Linked DNA regions of Homo sapiens: all the other regions are reported to be linked to region 3. The links are microRNA targets in miRTarBase. Many come from high-throughput screens and were not tested one by one. Region 3 holds a microRNA gene; each other region holds the end of a gene's coding sequence.

Region 1 (7,121 bases), not on the chromosome of region 3:
AGCTGCCCAGGAGGCTGAGGCGGGAGAACCGCTTGAACCCAGGAGGCGGAGGTTACAGTGAACCAAGATCACTGCCACTGCACTCCAGCCTGGGTGACAGAGTGAGACTCCATCTCAAAAAAAAAAATAAATAAATAAATACAATGACAATCTCTGGAGGTGGGTTACCATCATGTGTTTTCATCTTTTATGACTATTTCAGGTCAGCTCTATGGCTCTTCCACATGATTCAAACGAAACTTCCTATTTGCTGCCTCCCAACAATGAGGACTGGGGCAGGCAAACCATTCCTGACTTTGTTTATGGGCAGAAGGATCTCATGGCAGAAGGGATTCAGTGGCCAAGGAATGCACCTGGCATCCCAGATGCTCTGCCACAATCTCCCTTTGATGCTGCACTCTGCTCTGCCTGGAAGCAGCGGGTGGAGCTGGGGCTGTTTCGCTACCGTCTACGGGAGCTACAGACCCAAATCCTCCCTGGTGCTGTGGGTTTCGTGGCTCAGCTGAATGTGGAGCGTGGTGTGCAGAGGAGGCCCCCGCAGACCATCAAGAGTGTGAGGCAGGCATTTGACCCTGTACAGTTCAACTTCAACAAGATCCGGCCCGGAGAAGTCCTCTTCCGTTTGCACCGGGAGCCTGATCTCCCTGGGACTCTGCTGCAAGAAGACATCCTGGTGGTGATCAACGTCAGCCCCCTGGAGTGGGGCCACGTGCTGCTGGTGCCTGAGCCTGCCCGCCAGCTCCCCCAGCGCCTGCTGCCGGGTGCACTGAGGGCAGGGATTGAGGCTGTGCTGCTGAGCTTACACCCGGGCTTCCGTGTCGGCTTCAACAGCCTGGGAGGCTTGGCCTCGGTGAACCACCTCCACCTGCATGGCTATTACCTGGCCCACAGACTGCCCGTGGAGCAGGCGCCAAGCGAGCCCCTGGACCCTGGAGGCCATTTGCATCTGCTCCAGGACCTCCCAGCTCCTGGCTTCCTCTTTTACACTCGTGGGCCAGGGCCTGACTTGGAGTCCTTGATAAGCAGGGTATGTCGGGCCACTGATTATCTGACTGACCATGAGATTGCTCATAACTTGTTTGTCACCCGGGGAGCTCCGCCGGGAAAGACATCACCTTCCTCAGCCCTCACAGGGGTCCGAGTAATTCTGTGGGCCCGGAAGTCCAGCTTTGGGATAAAGGACGGTGAAGCTTTCAATGTTGCCCTCTGTGAGCTGGCTGGGCACCTCCCTGTCAAAACATCCCAGGACTTCAGCAGCCTGACAGAGGCAGCTGCTGTGGCCCTCATTCAGGACTGTCGGCTGCCCCCATCCCAGGCAGAAGACGTACAGGCAGCACTGGTGGCCCTGATGTCCCAGGAAGAGCAATAATACTTCTGGATGTATTTATGTTCTTTTTTTCTTTTCTTTTGAGATAGGGTCTCACTCTGTCCCCAGGCTAGAGTGTAGTGGTATGATCCTGGCTCACTGTAGCCTCCACCTCTGGGGCTGAAGTGATCCTCCCACCTCAGCCTCTTGAGTAGCTGAGACTATAGGCGTGCACCACCACACACCTGGCTTTTTTTTTTTTTTTTTTTTTTTTTAACGATTAGGTGATTTTGTATTTTTTTATATAGACAGCGTTTCACCATGTTGCCCAGGCTGGTCTTGAACTCTTGGGCTGAAGCAGTCCTCCCACCTCGGCCTCCCAAAGTACTGAGATGACAGGAGTGAGCCCCTGGATTCTTTTCTGTTTCTTTTTTTTTTTTTTTTTTTTTTTTTTTTTTTGAGATAGTCTCGCTCTGTCACCTAGGTTGGGGTGCACTGGTACAATCTCGGCTCACTGCAACCTCCACCTCTAGGGTTCGAGTGATCCTCCTGGCTCAGCCTCCCGAGTAGCTGGGACTATACAGGCTCCTGCCACCAAACCCGGCTAATTTTTTTGTATTTTTAAAAGAGAAGGGGTTTCACCACATTGGCTAGGCTGGTCTTGAACTCCTGACTTTAGGTGATCCGCCCGCCTCGGCCTCCCAAAGTGCTGGGATTACAGGCGTGAGCCACCACACCCAGCCAGGATGTATTCATTTTCTACCTGATGAGTCCCTTTCCAGAGCACTGTCCATCATAGTCCTTTGGACATTTATTTTCATGGCTGCCTTCTCACCTGTCTCAGCCTAAGAAGAAGGATGAAGAAAGCTGATAATGATCTCTTAAAGGGGAGAAAGATAATGGTCTCTTTAAAGGGGAGCTGATAGTGGTCTCTTTAAAGGGGAGAAAATCTGGAATAATTCTACTGAGTAAGACATCATGAATGTATCTGCTACCTCTCCCCGTTCTTGTTCAAGCCCCAGGGGTGTTAAAAAGGAGTGTGTGTGACAGTTACACACTCCTGACTTTACATTTAGATTTTGTCTTCCTTTGATATCAAATGTTAGCACGGTAATAGTGCCTGTGCCTCCAGTATTGAGCTGCCACTTCTGTTCTCAGCCTGTTTATTCCCCTTTGCTCACCACTTATTTTTATTGCTTTGTCCCTTCTTTCCATTTAGCCCTGCTCCACCCAAATGCCCCACTCCTTCACTTTCCCTGCCACCTTGAGCTTTCCTCTAGCCCCCAACACCAAGTTGAATGCTCTTCACTGACATCATCTGATGTAAAAACACAGTGTTGTCACAACTTTCCGGGTGCACGTCTTTTTTTGTTTTGTTTTTTTGTAAGGCTGGGGTGCAGTGGTGCAATCACAGCTCACTGCAGACCCAAACTCTTGGTCTCAAGCCACCCTCCCACCTCAGCCCCCTGAGTAGCTGGGACGATAGGTGTGCACCATCACACCTGGCTAATTTTTAAATTTTTTGTAGAGATAGGGTCTTGCTATGTTGCCCGGGTTGCTGTCAAACTCCTGGCCTTAAGAAATCCTCCCACCTCGGCCTCCCAGAGTGCTAAGATGCCACCACACCTTGGTGCAGGTTTTTTTTTTTTTTTTTTTTTTTTTTTTTTGACACAGGGTCACTGTCACCCAGGCTGGAGTGCAGTGGTATGAAGACAGCTAACTGCAAGCTTCAACCTCCTGGGCTCAAACAATACTCCCATCTCAGCCTCCCTAGTAGCTGGGACCACAGGCATGCGCCACCACACCCGGCTATTTTTTTGGAGAGATAGCATCTTGCCAAGTTGCCCAGGCTGGTCTCGAACTCCTGGCCTCAAGATCCTCCCACCTCAGCCTCCCAAAGTGCTGAGATTATAGGCATGAGCCACTGCACCTGGCCTGAGTTTTTTTTTTTTTTTCTTGAATCAGAGTTTCACTCTGTTGCCCAGGCTGGAGTGCAGTGGTGTGATCTCGGCTCACTGCGTCTCTGCCTCCTGGGTTCAAGCAATTCAGCCTGAGTCTTCTTAATACCCCCATTCAAAACGGGATGGAGACTGACAGTTTGTACTTTGTTCAAGGTCAGGCAGCTGGAGTCGGGACTGCAGCACAGGCAGGTACCAGAAGATGAGCTGGGACAATGTGTGCTTGTGACCGCCTCTCCAGTCAGTGGTTCCCATGGTGGGTAGCACTGTCCTTAACAGTTTGCCCTCCCTGAGCCTCAGCCATCCCTCTTGGGGTCTTTCCCAAGCACTTTAGAAGCTCCTCTTGATGTAGACACAAAATCCAAAGCTAAGTCGTTGTTCCTCCGTCTGCATCTGAGTCAATGTGGGAAATTTTTTTTTATCTCATTGCTTTGTTCTGTCCTGTTTCTCCAGACATTTCACACTGGTTCCAGAGGAACTAGTCAGTAGACACTATTCTAAGAGAGTATGTGGGTGTGAAATCTCATTTTCCTTTTAGCTCCCTTGAATGTTATACAGCAAAAGTAAAAGAAGTCTTGGGTTGGCTGGGCACGTTGGCTCACACCTTTAATCCTAGCACTTTGGGAAGCCGAGGCAGGCAAATCACTTGTCAGGAGTTCGAGACCAGCCTGGCCAACATGGTGAAACCCCATCTCTACTAAAAATACAAAAATTAGGCGTTGTGGCGGCCACCTGTAATCCCATCTACTTGGGAGGCTGAGGCAGGAGAATCACTTGAACCCAGGAGGCGGAGGTTGCAGTGAGCTGAGATTGCACGACTGTACTCCAGCCTGGGCGATAGTGCGAGACTCAGTCTCAAAATAAATAAATACATAAAGTCTTGGGTCCAGCTCTCAACAGAGATTATCACCGCCACCACTCCTTCATCAAACATCCTGAAGGAATGAGAGTCCCTGTTCACAGCGTAAGGGTGAAAGGGGGCTCACACAGGTGGGTTCTGGCTGCTGTCTGAGTGGGCTCACCCAGGAGGGGTTTTGATTTCTCTGCCTCCCAAACTGTGGGTCCTAGCCCTGGCTTAGGCCTTCAGGTCGTTGGCTCCCTATACCTAGGCCTGTATAAAGCCTTAGTTTCCAGTTTTCATTAGAGGTTTTACATCCCAAATGATGTTACAAAGTCTCCCTGTGATAAAGCAGAATATGTGTCCATAGCCCATTTTATAAGAAAAACAGTTTAGGCCAGGTGCGGTGGCTCACGCCTGTAATCCCAGCACTTTGGGAGGCTGAAGCAGGCAGATCACAAGGTCAGGAGTTCAAGACCAGCCTGGCCAACATGGTGAAACCCCGTCTCTACTAAAAACACAAAAATTAGCTGGGTGTGGGTGCACATCTATAGTCCCAGCTACTCAGGAGGCTGAGGCAGGAGAATCGCTTGGACCTGGGAGGCGGAGGTGGCAGTGAGCCGAGATCGCGCCACTGCACTCCAGCCTGGGCGGCAGAGAGAGACTTTGTCTCAAAAAAAAAAAAAAAGAAAAAAACAGTTTACCATTCTATCAGAAAATGTTGACCACCCTCATATTTTTGGTAAACTGCAGTAATTTTTCCTTAATACTTTTTGCAAGCTTTTGCATGCATAAGCTCCAGTATCACACTTAATTTTGCTTGCTTGCTCTCTGAAGGGAGTTCGGATGACCATTACAGCAAAGTGGATTTTGCGTTCAAAGTGATAAGCCAAATATCAGGATTTTCCCAGTTTCTCCGTAGGACTGATGTTTAGAGGAAAGCCTTCCCTGACTCAAATATGTTTCTCCATATAAAAAGGGGAAAGTAAAATGGGTTTTCTTTCTGGTGGTATTTCTCAGCTATTTATATGCTTTGTGAATCTTCAAGAAGAGCATTTGGACTGCAGCTTTTTCTACTGAGTAGGAAACACGTAGGGGCCCTTTGTACTCCGAGCCCTGGGCTTTGAGTATGGTAGGAAGTGCTGACCCAGCCCAGGACCTCCCCACGTTTTTGCTTAACTCTTCATGCAGAGGCCGGGCACGGTGGCACACTCCTGTAATCCCAGCACTTTGGGAGGCCGAGGCGGGCAGATCACCGGAGGTCAGGAATTCAAGACCAGCCTAACCAACATGGTGAAACCCAGTCTCTACAAAAATACAAAAATTAACCGGGCATGGTGGCATGCGCCTGTAATCCTAGCTACTCAGGAGGCTGAGGCGGAAGAATCGCTTCAACCCAGGAGGCAGAGGTTGCAGTGAGCCAAGATCGTGCCATTGCACTCCAGCCTGGGTGACAGAGCGAGACTCCATCTCAAAAAAAAAATACAAAACAAAAAACGATAATCAGAACTCTTCATGCAGGGCCTCATGTACTAAGAGGGTTTAGACTTGATCTAATGGGAAACCTTGAAGAATACTTAATGTGGGGTAACAGCTTTGCATTTGAGTAACAGCTTTGCATTTGAGGAAGAATACTTACGCTGTAATGGGGAGGATGGATGGAGTGAAGAATAGAATCAGGGAATCCAGTTAACAGACTGCTGAGGCCAGGTGTAGTGGCTCACGCCTGTAATCCCAGCAGCACTTTGGGAGACCCAAGCAGGTGGATCACCTGAGGTCAAGAGTTTGAGACCAGCCTGACCAACATGGTGAAACCCCATCTCTCTGAAAATACAAAAATTAGCCCCGTGTGGTGGCAGATGCCTGTAATCCCAGCTACTCAGGAGGCTGACGCAGGAGAATCACTTGAACCCGGGAGGCAGAGGGTGCAGTGACCCGAGATTGAGCCATTGCACTCCAGCCTGGGCAACAGAGTGAGACTCTGTCTCAAAAAAAAAAAAAAAAAAAAAAAAAAAAAAAAAAAAAAAAAAATTGCTGAATTGTGGCAATTCAGGCAAGAAATGGTGGTCGAGGTCCTAGAATAGTCCCTAGAACACTAAATTGTTTGTTGATGCAATGAGTGTCCTGGAAGTCAAGGGACTGCAGAACATTTCCAGGAGGACCATTTCTTTCTTTCCTTTTTTTTTTTTCTTTTGAGACGGAGTCTCACTGTGTCATCCAGGCTGGAGTGCAGTGGCACGATCTTGGCTCACTGCAACCTCTGCGTCCTGGATTCAAGCAATTCTCCTGCCTAGGCCTCCTGAATAGCTGAGACTACAGGCGTGCGCCACCATGCCCAGCTAATTTTTGTATTTTTAGTAGAGACAGGGTTTCACCATATTGGCCAGGCTGGTCTCGAACTCCTGACCTCGTGATCCACCTGCCTCAGCCTCCCAAAGTGCTGGGATTACAGCCATGAGTCACCACACTGGCCTTTTTTTTCTTTTCTTTTCTTTTTTCTTTTTTTTTTTTTTTTAAGAGAGAGAGTCTCGCTGTATTGCCCAGCCTGGTCTCAAACTCCTGGCCTCCAGTAATCCTCCTGCCTCAGCTTCCCAAGGTGCTGGGATTAGCGATGTAGGCTGCCACTCCTAGCCAGGAGGAGAGTTTCATATGAGAGTATCATATGCTGAGGAAAGATCAAGAAGTCTGTGAATCGGGCAGCCCATTTCTCCATCAGCCAGGAAGGACATTGGTGTTGAGGTTGACATACCTATCAAGGACAATAACTACCATGGCTTCCAGTGTTTTGATGAAACCTCAGATGCATGACCTCTGGTTTCACATTGCTGTATCCCTGTATAGAGGGTTGTAGCACTCTATACATTTGCTGTGGCTGAACCGGGAAAGAAGGCATATGCAGATTTCTAGAGAAATTATAATTCCATCAAAGATTTTTTTGTTTGCTTTTTTTTTTTGAGACAGAGACTCCCTCTGTCGCCCAGGCTGGAGTGCAGTGGCGCGATCTCCGTTCACTGCAAGC
Region 2 (7,121 bases), not on the chromosome of region 3:
GGGAGTTGCCGCTCTCCTCTTCTGCCATCCTGGCGGTGGCTCCCATGGCACCAGGGCAAAGGTACAAGAGACGTGGTGGTTACTTCTATACCATCTGAATCCACCTGGGTAGCAGGGATGGTCAGGGCTTTTCAGCAGGAACCAGTCTATACACAGTATGACTATTCTCTACTTGAACAAAAAATAGGATTTAAAGTTTAAGTGGTCACTGCAAAGGATAATAATTATTTCAATATATTTAGTATCGGCCAGTATGATGGTTAATATTGAGTATCAACTTGATTGGATTGAAGCATGCAAAGTATTGTTCCTGCATGTGTCTGTGAGGGTGATGCCGAAGGAGGTTAATATTTGAGTCAGTGGACTGGGAGAGGCAGGCCCACACTCAATCTGGGTGGGCACCATCTAATCAGCTGCCAGTGCAGCTAGGATAAAAGCAGGGAGAGGAACATGGAAGGACTAGACTGGCTGTGTCTTCTGGCCTCCATCTTTCTCTCGTGCTGGATGCTTCCTGCCCTCAAACATCAGACTCCAAGTTCTTCAGCTTTTGGACTCTTGGACCTATACCTTTGATTTGCCAGAGGCTCTTGGCTTCCCTACTTTTGAGGTTTTGGGACTCGGACTGGCTTCCTTGCTCCTCAGCTTGCAGACAGTCTATTGTGGGGCGTTACCTTGTGATCATGTGACTCAATTCTCCTAATAAACTCCCTTTCATATATCCATCTATCCTATTAGTCTTGTCCCTCTAGAGAACCTGGACTAATACAGCTGGCATTTTATTTTAATTTTTTTTGAGACAGGGTCTCACTCTTATCCAGGCTGCGGTGCAGTGGTGTGATCATGGCTCACTGCAACCTCGACCTCCCAGGCAATCCTCCCACCTCAGCCTCCCAAGTAGCTGGAACTACAGGCATGCACCACCATGCCCAGCTAATTCTTAAATTTTTTTGTAGAGATGGCGGGGGTTCACTATGTTGCCCAGGCTGGTTTTGAACTCCTCGGCTTAAGCGATCCTCCCGCCTCAGACTCCCCAAATGTTGGGATTACAGGTGTGAGCCACTGCACCTGGCCAATTTTCTTAAAAACACTTAAGCTGAAAAGAACTTTATATCATAGAATTAGGTTGTAAGCCTCTTAGGTGCAGGGGCCATGCCTTTAGTTTTGTTTGTATCATTTCTCTGGTCACTATACCTCCTCCCCAGCACCTGATACATGGGTATGAATCCTTCTTCAGGAAAACCTGTGCAGCAAAACCTCAATTTAGGAAACCGAAGTCAATGTATTTAGATTTTGGAAATACAAAAGCAAAAATTTGCATTTACAAAAAGATTTACAAAAAGGTTTCTTCAAATAGTGAATTCCTCTGCATCATTTAAAATGTTTTATTCACAAATGTTTATGTTTACAAGCCCATTTTGGTTATTTTCTTGACATAAATCATTTTACACTTGAACAAAGATTGGCTATTGAAAAAATGGAAGAGATGAAAACCAAGTAAGCCTTTTACAATTAAGATTGAATGAATGTAAACATTACTTCCAGTTATTTAAAAATTATATTAAAGGCTGGGTATGGTGGCTCACACCTATAATCCCAGCACTTTGGGAGGCTGAGGTGGGAGGATTTCTTGAGTGCAGGAGTTTGAGACCAGCCTGGGTGATAGAGCAAGACCCCTGTCTCAAAAAAAAAAAAAAAAAAAAGAGGCAAGAAAAAAATTATGTTAAACAAGATACTCTTTTTAAAGCAGCTAGTACAATGCCTGGCATATAGTAAGCACTCAAAAAAATTAGCAGCTTTTATTAGAATACTTTCAGAAAATGAGATTTAGGAAATGAGTTTAGAAAATCTCAGGCTATTTTTTTTAGCACAGTATTATTTCACATCCTCCCATTGGATTTCAGTCATTTGAGAGCCAATCAACCAACATTTATAGAATATCTGTGTGCCAGGCATTGTTCTGGACACTAGGGATATGAGACTTTAGCAATTATCTAATTCAACTCATCACTTTACCAGGAAAAAAACCGAGGCACAGAGAGGATGAAGTGATTTGTTCATGGTTAGTCTACTGCTAAATAGCAAAGTTGAATGCTTTTTCTACCATCTCTTTTCAAACAGCAGCATTTGATAAATGCATGTGGACTTGACAATCTATTCCCCAGGAGGCTAAACGAGACCATTTTCCTCTGATGTGGTGTGAAATAAGTCCACAAATCTGACACTCCCTTTGAAAAGTAAGATTTTCCTCCCCTAGAATATGGGCTGGCCTTAGTGACTCATTTCTAACAAATAGAAAAATGGTATAAGTGACAGTGTACACCTCTAGAGACTAGGTCATGAAAGGCCCTGTGGCTCCCTGTTTATTTGCTCTGGAGGAAGTTAACTGCCATGTGTGAGGACATCCAAGCAGCCTGTGGAGATGCCCACATGGCAAGGAGCTGAGGCCTCCAGCCAAGAGCCTTGTGAGTGAGTCAGCTTAAAAGTGGAGCCTGCAGCCCCACTCAAGTCTTCAGATGACCACAGGCCTGCTTGACAACAATCTCACGAGAGACCCTGAGCCAGAACCACTGGGCTAAACCACTCCCAGTGTCCTTACCCTCATAGAATGTGTGAAGTTATGAATGTTTATTGTTTTAAGCTGCTAAGTTTTGGGGTAATTTGTTACGCAGCAATAGAGAGCTAATACTCTCTTTTACTGTCACTTTGTTTTCACTCCTACCCTTCCTTGACCTCCCTCTAATACCTTATTTTATAGTTTATATTCTTAGGGCAATGATTGACACTTTTTTTAGTTCTAAAATTTTTACTATATTTATTTATTTAACAGCTTTACTGAGATATAATTTATGTACTATAAAGTTGGTTGACACATTTAAAAATTGTAATAAAACATAAAACTTAACATTTTAACCACTTTAAAACATACAATTCAGTGGCAGTAATTGCATTTATGATGTTGTATAACCATGACCACTATCTAGTTCCAGAACTTTCTCCTCACCCCAAATGGAAGCCCCATACATATGGCTGACACATTTTAAAAGATTAATTTTATTTTGTCCCCCAAATCTGGGGGGACAAAAGTAACAAAGAAAAATGAGCTCACAATTAAATAAGCAAAACCTTCTGTAAAGGTAAAAAAATTTGCCGGGCACAGTGGCTCACACCTGTAATCCCAGTGCTTTGGGAAGCTGAAGTGGGTGGATCACTTGAGGTCAGGAGTTTGAGACCAGCCTGGCCAACATGGTGAAACCCTATCTCTACGAAAAATACAAAACATAGCCAGGCGTGGTGGTGTATGCCTGTAATCCAGCTACTTGGGAGGCTGAGGCAGGAGAATAGCTTGAACCTGGGAGTTAGAGGCTGCAGTGAGCCGAGATCACACCACTGCACTCCAGCCTGGGTGACAGAGCGAGACTCCATCTCAAAAAAAAAAAAAAAAAAAATTGGAAAGAAATAACATTATTTCTAACAACAATATATCAATCTTTTCACATTCTTATATAGAATCAGAGAATCTAATGAAATACATTCTATTATGGATAAACCAAAATCTCAAGTACTTGTTTTACAAAAAATTAAGTCTTCAAAACTCTTTTGAAGTCCACTGGGTGCAGAACATCCCCCACTGTGCCTGAAAACCAAGGAACTAGAACTGGAGACAGCTGTTGGGAGGACAGCAGCGATAACAGATAGGTGCCCTGTAGCGATGGCCTCCAACGGCTACCTACACCCAGCCCTGGGATTCGGAGGATGCAGAAGGAACATCTGGGCTCAGCTATTTCATGCTGTCGGCCATACACTTCCAAGTGGGAGGTGATGGCAGTTTGGTCAGCTGTTTGCCAACCCAGGAGTTGGGTAAAGGTTGGTAAGAGATGTTATTAGTTTTAGCACCATTTCCTTCCAATAGTCTCATTTTAATACAATACAGGTTAGTAGTGACCAGAAAATATTGCTACTGAATTGAAGGATGACTATACAAGGACTTATATCAGATTATTTGTTGCTTTTAGTTTCTAGTGTCCCATAAAGTATAGAAATGGAAATTGCTGACAAGAGAGTACCTTTGGTAGGCACAGTTCCTTTTCTCCCCCCACTGGAGAGGACGCTACAACCTTGCTATAGAGTGTCCTGTGACTGCCCAGTGATGTAGATTATGCTCCTACCCCAGGAGGGGCAGCTTGAGAACAGAAAAGCAACAGCTGGAAGACATTTATATTACCTCTGTATTCAGCTCATTGGACTAGCATCTTTCATGGTGTGAGACTTTCTCATTTACTCATTTGTCCATTTATTCATTTGTTTTAAAAAATGAGGCCAGGCATGGTGACTCATGCCTGTAATCCCAGCACTTTTGGAGCCCAAGCTGGGATAATTGCTGGAGCCCAGGAGTTTAAGACCAGCTGGGCAACATAGGGAACCTTGTCTTTTCAAAAAATAAAATTAGCTGGGTGTGGCGGTATATGCCTGTAGTTCCAGCTATTTGGGTGCCTGAGGTGGGAGAATCACTTGAGCCCAGGAGTTTGAGGCTACGGTGAGTTGTGATTGTACCACTGTACTCCAACCTGGTGACAGAGTGAGATCGTCTCATAAAGATATAAAAAATTAAAAATAAAATAAAAATTAAAAAATGAGTGCCTTCAGGCAGTGTTCCAAGCATTGGTGAACACAATGGTGGGGCTAATGCAGAAAAGAGTATCATTTTTGCACACATTTCTCTGGGTTTGACACTCTCTGGAGCTAATATGGACTGTTCCACATTAGTAAGACATTAGTGGGATTGAGAAAGGGCTGCAGGTGTCAAACTGCATCCTCTTTGCCAGACCCCAGAACCTCAAAACAAGCAGTAAAACAGAGAATAAGAGGACTGTGGGTGTGCCCTCCTCTGCTTTACCAAGGCCCAGTATCCCAGACACTGGCCACTTGCTTTTTCATATCCTTTCCTGAGGTTTCTTCTCACTGCTAGTAAATAGCAGTGCAAGTCTTAATATATTATGAAATAAAGCTACAATCACAATGACTAACTCCATGCAATATAGGAAAAGCCTCGCTGAACAGATGCCACAGAGCCAAGCATCTCCCACCCAGCCCTCTTAGTGTCTACCATGAACATCCTCACAGAGCAACTCCACCGCCTATTACGGGGAGGCCTCTAGCTTCAGCCCTAGGGGCAAAAGTAAGGCAGGGCTCAGCAGCGTTCCAGAAATCAGGGGTGCTCAGGTAGAGAAGCAAAGTGGCCTTCCCAGGGATAGGACTACTGAGGTCAAAAGGAAAGGCAGGAAAAGCCACAGAAGAATTGGAAGTGGCAGGAAGTCTAGACAGAGTGAGCAATGGCTGGGGGGAAATAAATTACGATAAAAACACATTTCTTTATTTTAAAAGCCACAGTCATGGTGCAGGCATTTTGCTGTTGACCTGAACAACAAAATGGGCCTTATGCTCTGTGATGAGATAAGTGAGTAAGGGGTGAACCAAGAGGGGTGGTTCACTTGGAGTGCCTGAACATGATCCTTCACCGACAGGGAGAAGCCTTGGCCAACAGAACCATTAATCACTGTCTGCTCCCTTCATTTGCGTAAGAAATGTGATTCACTCCAATAAAACTGGCTATTGGCAGAGGGGAATCGAACGTCTGACTTGTGAGTCTAAAAGAGCCAGCTGTTCCAGCCTCCAGGATTCAGTGAGAACTTCCTATTTCAAGTTAAGTTCCCAGCTGTCCCAAGGCTTAGGAAAGGGGGATAAACCCAGCCACCCCCACCTCTAGACACATGCTCCAGCCAACAGCAGGAGTGTTGCAGATTTTATCAGCTTCTTAAATGCATTAGGGGTTGAAATTAGACACCTCGGTGTGGTTTAAGAGCAAGAGAAGGGCCAAGTGAACCCAGGTTGGGATAACAAATGAGACAAGAGTCGTGAGAAAAGGCCTGAGGTCCAACTTCCAATTGAAAGGTTTTCTAGCCTCCCTGAAATCCTACATCCAAGGGCCCCACACCCCAGTGGCCTTGGGATCACAGCGGGGGTCCTGTGCAGGGAAGTACACGGGGACTGAGTGTTTATGGTAGAACTGTAGGCGGGACAGGAGCTTTGTGACGATGTGAGGATATTCTCTGGACAGGTCATGTCTTTCTTCAGGGTCCCGATCAATATCAAAGAGCCAGAGGGTCTTGGTTGGTGGGTCTGATGAGGGTATCTCAGAAACATTGTATTGAGACGGTGGAGGGAACCAGTAACCACAGCCTAGCAAAGAAAACAAAACAGTTTACTGAGGGAGAAGCACAGAGGCAGGTTCTAATTTCAGGGAAGGAGTCTGAGGCCAAGGCTGCACTGGGTTGTGGGTGTGGAAACATAAAAAGATGCGGCCCTAGATGCTGTCTCTAGATGCTTCTCAGACTTGACTTCTGGTGCTTTAACTAGACATGTCTCACTGCTTCACAAGCAAGGACACCCAGAAACGTGTGTGCATGTGTGTATGTCCTTGTCACAAGGACTAGGGCATAGGGGTGCTCCTGGCATTTAGTGGGCATGAGCTAGTGATGCTAAAGTCTTGCAATACATGGGACAATCCCAGTCAAAAAAGACTTGTCATATTGCAAACGCCAAAAATGTTCTCATTGTAAACATTGATTAATTACATCACAGCCTTAACCATCATCCCACATATTTTAAAAGTATTGAAAAGATATCACTCTTAGAGAATATAATCAGAGGAGCAACCTCCTTCCCCAGCTATACCACTGGTTGAGGGTGTAGCTCTCAGAGACTCTCTTTGTTAGCTAAATGTGCTGTGCTTGATAGCCACATATATTTAAAATCCGTATTTTCCATGAAGCATAAGAGTGACATTTCTTCCTTTCACCCCTGCTACAGTTAATTCTCTCTGTCTTTCTCTCTCTCTCTCTTTTTTTTTTTTTTTTTTTTTTTTTGGTTAGGACGAGTAGGTTAAACCATTTCTTCCTATCTCCTCATTCAGCAGCCCCAGAGATATGTTTTGCAAAAGGCATTTGTTACTTCGGTAAGCTTCTCCTTGATGATCCACTGGGAAAGCTTACTTGCACCATGACAATGATGGAAGCTGTGTAATTGGGAACAGGCGGAGTCTTAGAATTGGGAAAAGAAAACCC
Region 3 (7,121 bases):
ATTTTTATTTTTTATTTTTTGTACATATGGGGTCTCATTTTGTTACCCAGATTGGTCTCAAGCTCCTGGCTTCAAGTGATCCTCCCACCTCAGCCTCCCAAAGCACTAAGATTACTAGTGTGAGCCACTGCACCCAGCCCAACCTTTTCAATACATCTGAAATCCACCCTCACTATCTTTTCCTAGTTTGGTCCCTATCATTTTCTTAAACTACTACAGCAGTTTCCTATCTGATCTCCAAGTATCCAGTGTTTTTCCTTCATCACTCTAATTCACGGGTGTCCAATCTTTTGGCTTCCCTGAGCCACACTGGAAGAAGAATTGTCTCGGTCTACACATAAAATACACTAACACTAATGATAGCTGATGATCTTTTTAAAATAATTGCAAAAAAATCTCATAATGTTTTAAGAAAATTTATGAATTTGTGTTGGGCTGCATTCAAAGCTGTCTTGGGCTACATGCAGTCCACAGGCTGGACAAGCTTGCTCTAATTTTATATAGTATTGTCAGGTTCCTATTCTTAAAATAGCATTCTGATCCTGTTACACTCCTCCTTGAAAGTTTTAAATGACAGATTCATCACAGTACGTATCAGAATCCCAGCTGACATTTTTTTTTGTAGAAACTGACACGCTGATTTTAAAATTCATATGGAAATGCAAGGGACCCCAAACAGCCAAACCAACCTTGAAAAGAAAAAGTGGGAGGACTTACACAGCCTGATTTCAACTTATGGCAAAGCAACAGTAACAAAGACAGTGTGGTACTAACCTAAGGAAAGACACAGAGACCAACAGAATAGAATTGAGAGTACTGAAATAAATCCTCAGAAGTGATTTTTGACTAAGGTATCAAGACCATCCAATGGTAGAAAGAACAGTCTCTTCAACAAATGATGCTGGGACAACTGGTTATCCACAGGCAAAAGAATTAAGTTGGACCCCTACCTCATAACCCATATACAAAAATTCACTCAAAATCAAAGACCTAACTGTAAGAGCAAAAACTATAAAACTTGTAAAAGAAAGCATAGGGATACATGTCATGACCTAGGATTTGGTAACAGACTCTAAGATGTAACCAAAAGCACAAGCAACAAAAGAAAAAATAAATATACTGTACTTCACCAAAATTAAAATATTTCATGCTTCAAATGACACTATTAAGAAAGTGAAAAGACATCCCAGACTGAGCATGGTGGCTCACACCTGTAATCCCAGCACTTTGGGAGGCCGAGGCAGGCAGATCACTTGAGGTCAGGAGTTTGAGACCAGCCTGGCCCACACAGCAAAACTCTGTCTCTACTAAAAATTAAAAAAAAAAAAAATTAGCCAGGCGTTGTGGCACATCACATGCCTGTAATCCCAGCTACTTGGGATTACTTCTCCTGCTGAGGCAGGAGAAGTGCTTGAACCAGGGAGGCAGAGGTTGCAGTGAGCTGAGATCACACCACTGCACACTCCAGCCTGGGCATCAGAGTGAGACTCTGTCTCAAAAAAAAAAAAAAGAAAGAAAGGGGAGGGGAGGGGAGGGGACCCAAAGAATGGGAGAAAAAATCTGCAAATCATGTATCTAATAGGAGTCTAGTATTCAGAATAAATAGCTCTTAAGACTCAACAATAAAAAAGAAAATTAACAGATGGACAACTCAATGAAATCAGGAAAACAATGTATGATCAAAATGAAAAGTTAAATAAAAAGATAGAAACTGTAAACAACAGCCAAACAAATTCTGGAGCTGAGGAATACAATGACTCAACTAAAAACAGGAGATTTATCAAGCAGAAGAAAGAACCAGCAAATTTGAAGAACAGTTATTTAAAATTACCTCATCAGAAGAGAAAAAGAAAAAAAAGGATGAAAAGGAATAAAGAACCTTAGAGGGTCAAAAATACACAATGGGGGAAAAGATGCTTGCTTGAACAAATGATGTTGGGGTAACTGGATATCCACACGCAAAGTAATGAAATCAGACTCTTATCTTACACCACACACAAAAACCAACTCAAAATGGGCTTAAGACTTAAATGTAACATCTGAAACCATAAAACTCCTAGAAGAAAACATAGGAAAAACTTCTTGAAATTGGTCTTGGCAATGATTTTTTGAATATGACATCAAAAGCACGTGCAAGAAAAGTAAAAAACAAACAAACAAAAACAATTAGGACTACATCAACCTAAAAAGCTATATAGCAAATATTTGCAAACCACAAATTTGATGTCAATATTTAAAATATGTAAAGAACTCATAAACTCAATAGCAGAAATACAAATAACCCAATTTTAAAATGGGCAAAGGATCTGAATAGACATTTTTCCAAAGAAGGCATACAAATGGACAACAGGTATATGAAAAGGTGCTCAACATCACTAATCATTGGGGATATGCAAATGAAAACCACAGTGAGATCTCATGTCACCCTTGTCAGAATGGCTATTATAAAAAATGCAAAAGATGGCAATATTGGGAAGGGTGTGGAGAAAACAGAACCCTGGAAAACTGCTGATGGAGATCAATAGAGCCATTATCAAAAATAGTATAGTTTCAAAAAAAAAAAAAAAAAAAGACCTATTCTATGACACAGCAATCCCACTTCTGGAATACTTATCCAACAGTTGAAATCAAGATCTCAAAGGGATATCTGCACTCCTATATTCCTTGCACCGTTATTCACAATAGCAAAGATATAGAAACAAGATAAATGTTCATCGATGGATGCATGAATAAAGAAAATGTGGTATATTATCCAGCCTTTAAAAAGAAGGATATCCTATCATTTGCAGTAACACAGAAGGACCCAAAGGACATTATGTTAAGTGAAATGAGCCAGAAAGAAAAATATCTTATGATGTCACATAAATATGAAATGTAAATTAGTCTAACTCATAGAAGCTGAGTATAAAATGATGGTTAGCTGGGGCTGGTGCTGGGAAAGTAAGATGTTAGTCAAAAAGTACAAAGTTTTAGTTTTCCAGGACAAGTAAGTCCTGGATATCTAATGTACAGCATGGCGACTATAGGTGAAAATACTGTACTGTATACTTAAAATTTGCTATAAGAATAGATCCTAAGTATTTCCAACACACACACACACGCATACACACATAAATGATAACTCTATGATGTAATGCATGTGTTATCTTGATTGTGGTGATTTCCATATATATATATAATCATTAAGTTGAAAACCTTAAATATATACATTAAAAATAGCTAAAGTATTAAAAAAACTCAACAATAAAAAGATAAATAACCTTGAACAGACATCTCTCCAAAGAAAACACACGGGTACTCAACATGCACATGAAAAGATGTTCAACATCATTAGTCATCAGGGAAATGCAAATCAAATCCACAATGAGATGACACTTCATACCCACTAGCATGGCCAAAATATAAAAGGCAAACACAAGTGTGCATGAGGATGTGGAGAAATTGGAACCCTTTTATACTGTCGGTAGGGATGTAAAATGATGCTGCCATTTTAGAGAAACAGTCTGGCAGCTCCTTGAGAGGTTAAACATAGAGTTATCATATGACTCAGCAATTCCACTCCTATACCTGGGGGAAATGAAAACCTATGTCCAAGGGAAATAAAAACCTATGTGCACCTGAAAACTTACAGATGTTCACAGAAGTATTATCTGTAATAGCCAAAAGGCAGAAACAACCCAAATGCTCACCAACAGACAAATGGATACATAAAATGTGGCATATCCTTAAAATGGAATATTAATTGGCCATAAAAATAAGTGAAGTACTGATACATGCTAAACACAGATGAATCTCGAAAACATACTAAGTGAAAGAAGCCAGTGGAAAAAGGTCACATATTATAATTACTCAATTTCTATGAAATGTCCAGAATAGATAAAATCTATAGAAACAGAAAGTAGATTAACAATTGCTTAGGGCTGGTGAGTGGGGGAAAGGTAGGGAGGGGGGTGAGCTAAATCGTATGGAGTTATTTTTTGGATGATGAAAATGTTCTAAATTTGACTGTGGTGGTGGTTGCACATATATGTGAATATACTAAAAACATTCAATTGTACACTTTAAATGAATGAATTATATGGTATATGATTATAACCCAATAAAGCTGTTTAAAAAACAAACTTTGGATAGCTCCTTATTGCTTGATAAATAAAAGTCCAAATTCCTTAATTGGGCATTCAACTCCCTCCCCTCCTGCATCATCATTTGACCCCCGACCAGCATCATTGCTCACTACTCCCTTTTACATGCTTTTCTATCCAACCAAGATGAATTATGCACCATTACCCATATATCCCTTGTGGTCTCCCATCTGTCTTTCTTCTCGCTATTCCTTCCCCCTGAGATTCTCTCCTCCTGACTCATCTTCACATGTTAATATTCTACTTCTTTCACAAAGCCCAGTTCAAATGCTCCCTCCTATGCAAACCCCTCCCTGTTCTTCAACCCTCACATAGTAGGCACTTAAAAAACTATTTACTGAAAGAACGAAGGTACGTAGTTCTCCTATATGATGGCTCTCATTTACAGAGAAGATAATTCTCCCAAAGCCACAACTTTACTTCTTTCTTCCTTTCCTGGTCACAGCAGCAGCTCACTGCTTCAGCCCCCTTACCCTGAGGACAATCCCAAACTGGTACCTTGATGAAGAAAGTACTGACATTACATTATGCCAGGGCCGCCGAGTACAGTTGTGTAGGTTGTGCACTGCACAACCCTAGTGGCGCCATTCAATTATAGTCTATGTGAATGGCACCCTCTCCTAGGGTTGTGCAGTGCATAGCCATTCGTGGCGGCCCTGCTTGGAAACATTCCTAGTGTTTGAGAACAAAGCCAAAAAGAACACTCAATGAGAGAATCACTATGTTGTCGCTGAGAAGTAGGCAACTCAAAAATCTTGTCAAGAAAAAAGAAATTCAAGAGAATAGCATGGCCATAGCACACAAACAGCATTTGCATGGAATTGAAAACAGGAACATCCAAGAGAAAAATTGTTACTGATGTTTCTCCAGCAGTGGAGAGAGAACAGGACACACATTCTGGTCACACTACAAAGCTATGACAGACATGCAAAAAGGTACAGTTTTCCATGGACTACCAAAGCCTATATGGTCTCGCTCATGAGACTTTTCAACTCCATTAGGTTCTGATTTTAGGTTATAAAACAGTCCCTGTTTAATTTGGCTTCAGGTACCTTGATATCAGAAAGGGCTGATACACACAAGTGTTCTCATCTCTATAAAGGTCTCTCTCTCATCATCAATCGACTTATCAGCCTGGTGATTTATTAAGAAGTGTTTTGTAATGTTGGGGAGTGTGACCCAATCCACTAGAAACCAACAGCCCTGGGTAAGCTGATAAAAATTAGGCTTTGAACCTACAAACCAAGTTGCAGAGTTAGGACCCGTGTCAACTCCACCAAGGCACAGACACCCTCAAGCTCAGTCAGAGCAGCTGGCCAACTAGCTGGCCAAGTCAAAACTGCAGCCAGTAATTCAGGGCACTCCAAAATGGAGAGCCATAAAGGACTGGACATATTGGTAGTGACAACAGGTGAGCTGGTGGTAGAGCTCAAGGGTGCCAGATGTTGCGTTTGTTTCTTCTTTTTGTTCCCCACTCCAGTTCAGTTCAGCCTCCCACTTTCATATTTGCTCCACCTGGAATATTTCATTCCACTTCTTCTGTCTCCTCTAGAGATTTCCTGGATAAGTCACAAAAATTAAGCATTCTTTTTCTGAACTCCATTGGTATTTGTTGGTACTTATACACTAATCACTTATTAGTCTCATACTGTTGTTAGTAACAACAATAATGGCAGTAGTTATTCCTTACTGAGTGCTTACTAGGTGCCTGGCACTACAGTCAATGTCTTACACATATTAGTTCATATATTCTTCATAGCAATCCTATTATGTAAGAGATTATTATTTTCCTCCTGTTTGCATACAAGGAAACTGAGCTACAGAAAGGTTAAATAAATTGCCTAAGGTCGCACAACTAATAAGTGAGTCAAAGAGTCAGGCCTGGAACCCAAAACTATCTGATTCCAGAGGTCATGTTTGTTGCCAATACTACCTTTTGTCTCCACCATAAGATAATTTATCTTTTCTGGAGTTCCCTCTGCCTCCACTCCACATAGTGCCTAACACACCATCGGACATATAAAAGTCCTCCAGAACACATGCGCACATCTGCCTCTGCTCCCTGTCCAGAGCCCAGCCCAGGACATAAGCTGGAAGAGAAGGGAAGACGGTGTAGTTAGCATGAAGGGGCTTGACCTTTCAGGGAGCCACAGGAGTCCTCCTCCTCTGACCCATTTAAGAGAGGATCATGCTGCTCCTTGACCTCAATCCCAGAAAAATATGTAGAACAGGATGACCTGGTTACCTTGAAACTCGTCAAGAAAACTCTGAAGTAACAGAGCCTAGGCCAACCCATGGGAGGGATGGATGGTATCCAGTTCCCTGAAGCAAGAGGACCAATTGTGTCAGAGTCAAAGCCACATGGGACAGCTAATGTTTGCAGTGCTCCACCACCAATGAACTCTATGGCCAAAGTTGGGGTTTTTATGATGGTGGGGGAGAGGTGTATTTTTTTTAAAAGAAAGTATTTTTTACACCTCCTTAAGCCTCAGTTTTCTCATTGTTTAAAACAGAAATAAGAATACCTACCATTTGCAGTGCTTCTAAGGCATAAAATGAGAATGTAATAAAAGCACCTATTTCCTGGTGCCTACATCAGTTTGTTCTTCCTGAGGTTCTGAGCACACAGTGATGCAGGACATAATTCCTGTCTGCAAGAAGCTCACAGTCTGGCTAGCAAAGGTCTTCTACGGCACCCTGTCAACCAAAATTAAAGCTGGTTGGTGAGTTAGCCTAACTCTCAGCAAGACATTTTATCAAAGGAAAATTTTGGTGGGAAAGAAGGTAAGAGCTGTTGGCAAGAGTAAAGATTGTGGGTTATATCTTTGCTTTCCTATCTTTGCTGCAAATCTCCCATCCACACCTTTGTATTAAAAAATTGGGAAAGGGGACTCCATTAATCACTGTTTTAAAAAATGATGCATGTAGGCCAGGCATGGTGGCTCACGCCTGTAATCCCAGCACTTTGGGAGGCCAAGG
Region 4 (7,121 bases), not on the chromosome of region 3:
CCTCCTAAAGTGCTGGGATTACAGTCATGAGCCATCACAGCTGGCCAGGAGCTTTCTTGGGTTCTTTGAAATCTCCTTTCTGGCCCCTCAACTGCAACACCTCCCTTTCATCTGGCCACACTGCACCCCCCCCCACAACCCCCCTGGCCATGGCTCTGCAGGGACCATGCTCCCCCAGGCACTAGCTATCCCCTTTAAGGAGTCCTCCTGGGTAAGGCTTACAGTGGCTCCAGGCTGGTGTACACTTGCTTGCTCTCTCTCATACAGTCCACATCTGGTCCTCAGGAATCATCCTCTCATATTTTGACCAGCCATTGGAGAGGAGGACCTTGCTTCCTAGGCACAGAAACAACTCTTCTCCCAGAGTCCTAGAGCCACAGCTCAAGCCCCCTGGGTTGTCCAAGGAAGGCTCTCTCTTTCAGCTTAAGGAAAAGGAGCCAGCAACTCTTTACAAAGGACTCTCTCCCCACGTGACAACCCAAGCCCTTGGTTACCAAGGCTGGCAATCCCTTCAGGCAGCCCAGCTCACTCTCACTTCTCTGATCTTAAATTTTTAGTCCCCGGGATTTTGTCTTTGAGTCATAATACATTATATTCTCAACACATCAAAGCAGTACTTAAGGTTTGAAGAGTTGTTTGTTCCTCCACAGGGCAGGCCTTAGCTCCAGGCTCCCTCCTCCTCCTCTGTGGCTTTCTCTCCTCGGGTTGCCCTTAACATTATTGCATGTGTGCATATTGTCACTGCCCCACATTTCCATATTTCTACATGTCCTTAAAGCACTGGAGCTGGAAAAAGGCATGATTAGAAAGTGAGTTGGTTTTTTTTGTTTTGTGTTGTTTTTTGAGAAGGAGTCTCACTCTGTCACGTAGGCTGGAAGTGGTGCCATCTCTGCTCACTGCAAGCTCCGCCTCCTGGGTTCAAGCAATTCTCATGCCTCAGCCTCCCGAGTAGCTGGAATTACAGGCGTGTGCCACATGCCTGGCTAATTTTTGTATTTTTAGTACAGACGGGGTTTCACCATGTTGGCCAGGCTGGTCTTGAACTCCTGACCTCAAGTGATCCGCCCACCTCGGCCTCCCAAAGTGCTAGGATTACAGGTGTGAGCCACTGCACCCAGCTGAAAGTGGTTTTTAAGTTAAATTTTAACAATGTTTTCTTTTTCTTCTATTGCTTTCAATAACCCCAAAATTCCCTGGGCTCCTACAGGAACAATGACACTGCCATTGAAATAGACAACTGCAGCAGCTACAAGATACCCTCTCCAGTGGCATCTCCAATCAATTTGAATATACCCATGAGAGCTGCCTTGAGCCACAGCCTCTGGGAACAAGAGGACTGGAATGAGCACCTTCTACAAGTTCATATAGCCAGTTACCTAGGAGAGCACTTCTTGGGAGCCTGACACCTAGGCAAAACATGCTCTTCCTTGCATACGTGTACTTGCTACCACCTCTTATAATGCTCCTTTTCCACTGTGAGCCAAGTGACCTTGGGAGAGGTAAGATGGTGTTTCCAACAAGGTGCTTCTCTACTTCCACCAATAAACTTCCAAGTGAGTCCCTAATTTTTGCAGGTTGGGCTATAGGGAGGCTCCAGTTTGGGAAAGGACTGACTGAGAACAGGAGCAGTTTTTGGAAAAATAGGTGGGAAAAGTTACTGTCTGTGTGTACAGAGAACTACCTGAGACTGGGTAATTTTATTTATTTATTTATTTATTTATTTATTTATTTTGGAGATAGAGTCTTGCTCTGTCTCCAGGCTGGAGTACAGTGGTGCGATCATGGCTCACTGCAACCTCCACCTCCTGGGTTCAAGCAATTCTCCAGCCTCAGCCTCCCAAGTAGCTGGGACTACAGGCACACACTACACCTGGCTAAGTTTTTATATTTTAGTAGAGATGGGGTTTCACCACGTTGCCCAGGCTGGTCTCCAGCTCCTGAGCTCAGGCCATCCAGTCACATTGGCCTCTCAAAGGGTTAGGATTACAGGCGTGAGCCACCAGGCCCAGCCTCGAGTCTGGGTAATTTATAAAGAAAAGAGGTTTAATTGGCTCATGGTTCCCCAGGCTGTACAGGAAGCATGACTGGGGAGGCCTCAGGAAACTTACAATCAAGGCAGAAGGCAAAAGAGAAGCAGACCTGTCCTACGAGTCTGGAGCAGGAGAAAGAAAGAAGTGGGAGGTGCTATGCACTTTTAAACAACCAAATCTCGTGAGAACTCACTATCATGAGAACAGCAAGGAGGAAATCCACCCCCATGATCCAATCACCTCCCACCAGGCACCTCCTCCAACACTGGGGATTAAATTCAACATGAGATTTGGGCAGGGAGACAGATCCAAATCATATATCAGTCTGCTCAGTTGAAACCACACAATAGCCAAGCAAAGCCAAGAAAGCCAGTCCAAGGCTGGCTTGGAAAGGGCCTCTGAGGAGAAATCAACTTTCAAAGGGGCAGGGGGAAATAGAGGTTGAGCTACTGCAAGCCCAAAATAAAAGAAATCCTGAGAAGGATGGTAACCAGCTGGAAGATTCCTTTGTGTTGCTCCACTATATCAAGCAAGAAATTGAGTCTTTGGCTGGGCGCGGTGGCTCTTGCCTGTAATCCCAGCACTTTGGGAGGCTAAGGTGTGCAGATCACTTGAGGTCAGGACTTCGAGACCAGCCTGGCCAACATGGCAAAGCCCTGTCTCTACCCAAAATACAAAAATTAGCTGGATGTGGTGGTGCACACCTGTAGTCCCAGCTACTCAGGAGGTTGAGGCAGGAGAATTGCTTGAACCAGGAGGCAGAGCTTGCAGTGAGCTGGGATCATGCCACTGTGCTCCAGCCTGGGTGACAGAGCCAGACTCCATCTCAAAAAAAAAAAAAAAAAAAAAAAGAATAAATTAGGTCTTCATTGCCCTGTGTTAGTGTAAAGCTATGAAGGCTCCCCTGGCTCATACAACATTTCATTGCTAATGAAAACATGGTGAGGAAGATATTGACTGCCCATCACCAGAAATTCTGATTAATTTGACTGTTTCTTACCCAGAACCTAATGAAAGTGAACTGGAAGACATGGCATCTTTGAGTATTGGGAATGGGGTAGGAGCTTTGGCCAACCTTTATACACATAGGGAATACTTACAAGGAAAATACCATGACTCCTTTTTTTTTTTTTTTGAGACAGTCTTGTTCTGTTGCCTAGGCTGGAGTGCAGTGGTGTGATCTCAGCTCACTGCAACCTCCACCTCTCAGGTTCAAGCGATTCTTGTGCCTCAGCCTCCCAAGTAGCTGGGATTACAGGTGTGAACCACCAGTCCGGCTAATTTTTGTATTTTTAGCAGACACAGGGTTTCTCCATGTTGGCCAGGCTGGTTTTGATCTCCTGACCTCAGGTTATCCACCCTCCTCGGCCTCCCAAAGTGCTGGGATTACAGGCATGAGCCACCACGCCCAGCCCCACCACGCCCACTCCAATATTTAATAAGTATTTGTCAGGCTCCTGCTAGGTGCTAGACACTGCGTTTGACGCTAAGTATATTGGAGAGAACAAGACAGACGGACAAGTTACCTGCCTTGAGGGAGGGTCTGGGAGAGATGCCAAGTCCTATTTTGGAGACATAGTGAAGCCATTAATGTTGACCTGATGTCTGAGCCACCCAGTCTGCAAATGAAAGCTGGAGGCCCTGCTTTCCAGCATGTGTGGTTCACATCCTATGTGGTGCAGAAAGAAAGAACATGGTTGCCCTCCTCTTGTGCATGCTCAGTTGGGCTGAGCAGTCAAATCTGGCTGAATTGAGTCAGAAAAGACATCTGAGTTAAGAGGATGCCTGATGCTTGTTGGTTTTGTCTTGCCTCCAGTAAAATTAAAAACAAGTTTCCTTTCAGTATGTTACAATCAAATAAGCTGAGCATTGTTGGTGCTGGTGAGGGACATCTAGAAGCTGAACTTAGAAAAGACTAATGTGCAGGGTGATTGTACTTCCAAATGCATGCCTGTTGTCCTGGTATCATTATTAATACATACCCATTTCACTCTGAGAAGTGTCCCTCAGTGAATCACAAATCATGTGGCCATCCTATCTATATGGCATACTTATAAACATTGAAAGGCTTGTCATCCCCACTTCTTTGTCTTGGTTTAAGCCTTCATCAGCCCTCACCTAGACTATTGTATTAATAGTAACCCCAGGCCAGGCATGGTGGCTCAGGCCTGTAATCCCAGCACTTTGGGAGGCTGAGGCGGGCAGATCACGAGGTCAGAAGTTTGAGACCAGCCTGGCCAATATGGTGAAACCCCATCTCTACTAAAAATACAAAAATTAGCTGGGCATGGTGGCGCACACCTGTAGTCCCAGCTACTCGGGAGGCTGAGACAGAAGAATCTCTTGAACCTGGGAGGTGGAGGTTACAGTGAGCAGAGATGGCGCCACCGCACTCCAGCCTGGGCGACAGAGCCAGATTCCGTCTCAAAATAAAATAAAGTAAAATAGTAACCCCAATTGGTCTCCCAGACTTTATCATCATCATCATCATAATAGCTAACATCTTTAGAAATTTGCTATCTTCTAAGCACTATGCTGACTTTACAAAGATCACATAAACCACACCACAAGCCATTGAGAAGTAGATCTTATTATTACATTTTATAAATGATAAACCGGAGCCACAGAGAGGTTCAAGAACTTGCTTAAGGTCACACAGGTAGTAAGTAGCAGAGCCAGGACTTGAAGCCAGTCTGTCTAACTCCAAAATCCAAATTACTCTTGATGCCTCTCCAATGTCTTCCCAACTCATTCCCTTTTCATACCTCTAACAGAGCAACTTTTTGACACATAAATCTGACAGAAAGGACCAGGCACGGTGGCTCATACCTGTAATCCCAGCACTTTGGAAGGCCAAGGTGGGCAGATCACTTGAAGTCAGAAGTTTGAGACCAGCCTGGCCAACATGGTGAAACCCTGTCTCTACTAAAAATGTGAAAATTAGCCAGGTGTGGTGGTGCGCGTCTGTAGTCCCAGCTACTCAGGAGGCTGAGGCAGGAGAATCTCTTGAACTGGGGAGGCAGAGGTTGCAGTGAGCCGAGATCACTCCACTGCGCTCTAGCCTGGGCAACAGAGCAAGATTCCATCTCAAAAAAAAAAAAAATATATCTGACTGAGTTTCCTCCTTAATAAAACCAGACCCTTTGACATGAAATGACTAGACCCCTGCCTCTCTCTCCAGCCTCTCCACTGGCCACTGCTGCCATAGAATCTTATGCTCCCACCATGCCAAATTTCTTGTGGTTCCCTAAATGCGCCATGTTTGAAGATACTTTGAGGACATTGTATATACTTTTGTTCTACCTGAGATACATTTGCTTACTTTCTCCACATATTGCCCTCATGACACTTATCCTTATTGATGGATTTCTTCAATGCTACTATTGTGCCTTACATGTGCCTTGTATTATAGCATTTTTATAGCATTTCTCACCCAATTGTGGCTATTTGTTTACATGTCTGTCTCCTTGGTGGAACTGTGAACTCTGTCATAACAGATGCCATTTTATGTCAGTTAGACTTCTTTGGTTGCCAGTAAGAGAAGCTGACTCTAATCTAAACCAAAAGGAATTCATTGGACGGATGTGGGTTGGCTCACAAAATCAAAGGGACAACTGCGGAGCCGATCTTGGAATGCTCTGACACCAGAACAGCTCTGTGAATTCAGATAGGGGTAGTGAATTGACCATTTCATCAAATGCTGCAGCAAGCTAGGTGGTTTCCCCAAAGGAAATTGAGGAGTGTTACAAGAAGACCATTAGGGGAACGGTTATCTGGTGGCTGATAATAACAAATTTCCATGGCAGTCTCTTTGCTCTCTGTTGGAAGAGGTACTCCACCATGGGCCTTGAGCATCTCTACACATCCTTGCTAAGCGTGTCAAATTTCAAGTCCTAACTGTCCTCTGTCTCTGGAGGAGGAGACAGGTTTGGTTACTGTTTGTTGTAAAAATTACTGAGCCCTTCACCATGGGTGCCTCAGCTGTATGCAAAGCCCCTTGTATTGCTGGGGGACAGAGCAACTGGTACTGCCATGCTGGTGCTCTGGCTGTTTGCTGTTGGCAATAAACTATTCTGTTTTGGTTCATTGAATCTCTGTCTACTTTGGGCACCTATGTGATCATGGTAAATCAACCTGCTTGCTTGCCTAGTCATTTTTTTAGAGTATTGTTACGCCTTGACATCCTCTATGAGACCTAGATTCTTCTCGGACACTGTCCAAACCCACATACAATCTTTTTTTTTTTTGGAGATGAAGTCTTGCTCTGTCGCCCAGGCTGGAGTGCAGTGATCTCGGCTCACTGCAACCTCCACCTCCCAGGTTCAAGCAATTCTCCTGCCTTAGCCTCCCGAGTAGCTGGGATTAAAGGCACGCGCCACCACATCCAGCTAATTTTTGTATTTTTAGTAGAGATGGGGTTTCACTAGGTTGGCCAGGATGGTCTCGATCTCCTGACCTCATGATCTGCCCACCTCGGCCTCCCAAAGTGCTGGGATTACAGGCGTGAGCCACCGCGCCTGGCCCCCCTGGTTTCTTCCTTACCTTTGTATCACAAAACTTCTAGACCAAACAGTAAATATAAACGCCACAAGCATACCCTATGCACAAAATGAGAGAAGGATTTAATTTAAATAACATACATCACTGCAAAGAAAGAAATACAGGTGGAAGTTTTAGTTCTTTCTGCTTCTTGGTTACAAGTCAGTAGTAGTTGTCATTTCTTACTTCCCTCCTATACTACCATTCCAGGTACCTCTTGCTTTGACTGGGTTCATTCCCTGGTAGGGAGTCCACAAACTTTCACTCCTGAAAATCCTAAGCCCTTGATGGTTTTGCACATGTAGAGTTGTGTGATCTTCTTTTGACTGGGCAAGAGCTGTAAAGAGGCATCTCAGTTTCCTCTGAGTACCATTCCTACTCCTCTCTGCCCCCATTCTGTAGAACCATCTTTTTGCTTTTAATAATAACGGTCCCCCCTCCCCCTCCCCTCCCCCTCCCCCTCCCCCCTCCCTCTCCCCACAGTCTCCCTCTCCCTCTCTTTCCACCGTCTCCCTCTGATGCCGAGCCGAAGCTGGACTGTGCTGCCGCCAT

Evidence for each region. The annotated mature microRNA hsa-miR-652-5p reads CAACCCUAGGAGAGGGUGCCAUUCA and lies in region 3 at 4,747-4,771, opposite strand. An mRNA with a match to its seed (bases 2 to 7 or 8) in the 3' UTR can be bound and repressed. Matches are read on the target gene's strand: a 7mer-m8 pairs with bases 2 to 8, a 7mer-A1 pairs with bases 2 to 7 and ends in A, and an 8mer does both.
Region 1: miRTarBase lists GDPGP1 as a target of hsa-miR-652-5p. Seed matches in the 3' UTR shown: 7mer-m8 at 1,837-1,843.
Region 2: the mRNA of ARSB is a reported target of hsa-miR-652-5p. Seed matches in the 3' UTR shown: 7mer-m8 at 3,251-3,257.
Region 4: miRTarBase lists GARIN1A as a target of hsa-miR-652-5p. Seed matches in the 3' UTR shown: 7mer-A1 at 1,974-1,980.

The regions. Positions count from the first base shown.
Region 1 is chr15:90,240,698-90,247,818 of GRCh38, forward strand. It overlaps GDPGP1 (GDP-D-glucose phosphorylase 1), which reads left to right. Exons shown (of 4, transcript NM_001013657.3): 4 at 203-5,114. The coding sequence starts at 212. The coding sequence ends at 1,369. It also overlaps a transcript of CIB1 not described here. Among named protein-coding and RNA genes, the nearest start is that of TTLL13, 5.3 kb to the right of the region's middle.
Region 2 is chr5:78,774,426-78,781,546 of GRCh38, forward strand. ARSB (arylsulfatase B) reads right to left here. Exons shown (of 8, transcript NM_000046.5): 8 at 2,784-6,237. The coding sequence ends at 5,972. Among named protein-coding and RNA genes, the nearest start is that of LHFPL2, 130 kb to the left of the region's middle.
Region 3 is chrX:110,052,999-110,060,119 of GRCh38, reverse strand. It overlaps MIR652 (microRNA 652), which reads right to left and starts at 4,791; the gene lies at 4,694-4,791. All of the region lies in intron 2 of TMEM164 (transmembrane protein 164), which reads right to left.
Region 4 is chr7:128,681,757-128,688,877 of GRCh38, forward strand. GARIN1A (golgi associated RAB2 interactor 1A) reads left to right here. Exons shown (of 5, transcript NM_001128926.4): 5 at 1,208-6,121. The coding sequence ends at 1,403. Among named protein-coding and RNA genes, the nearest start is that of GARIN1A, 13 kb to the left of the region's middle.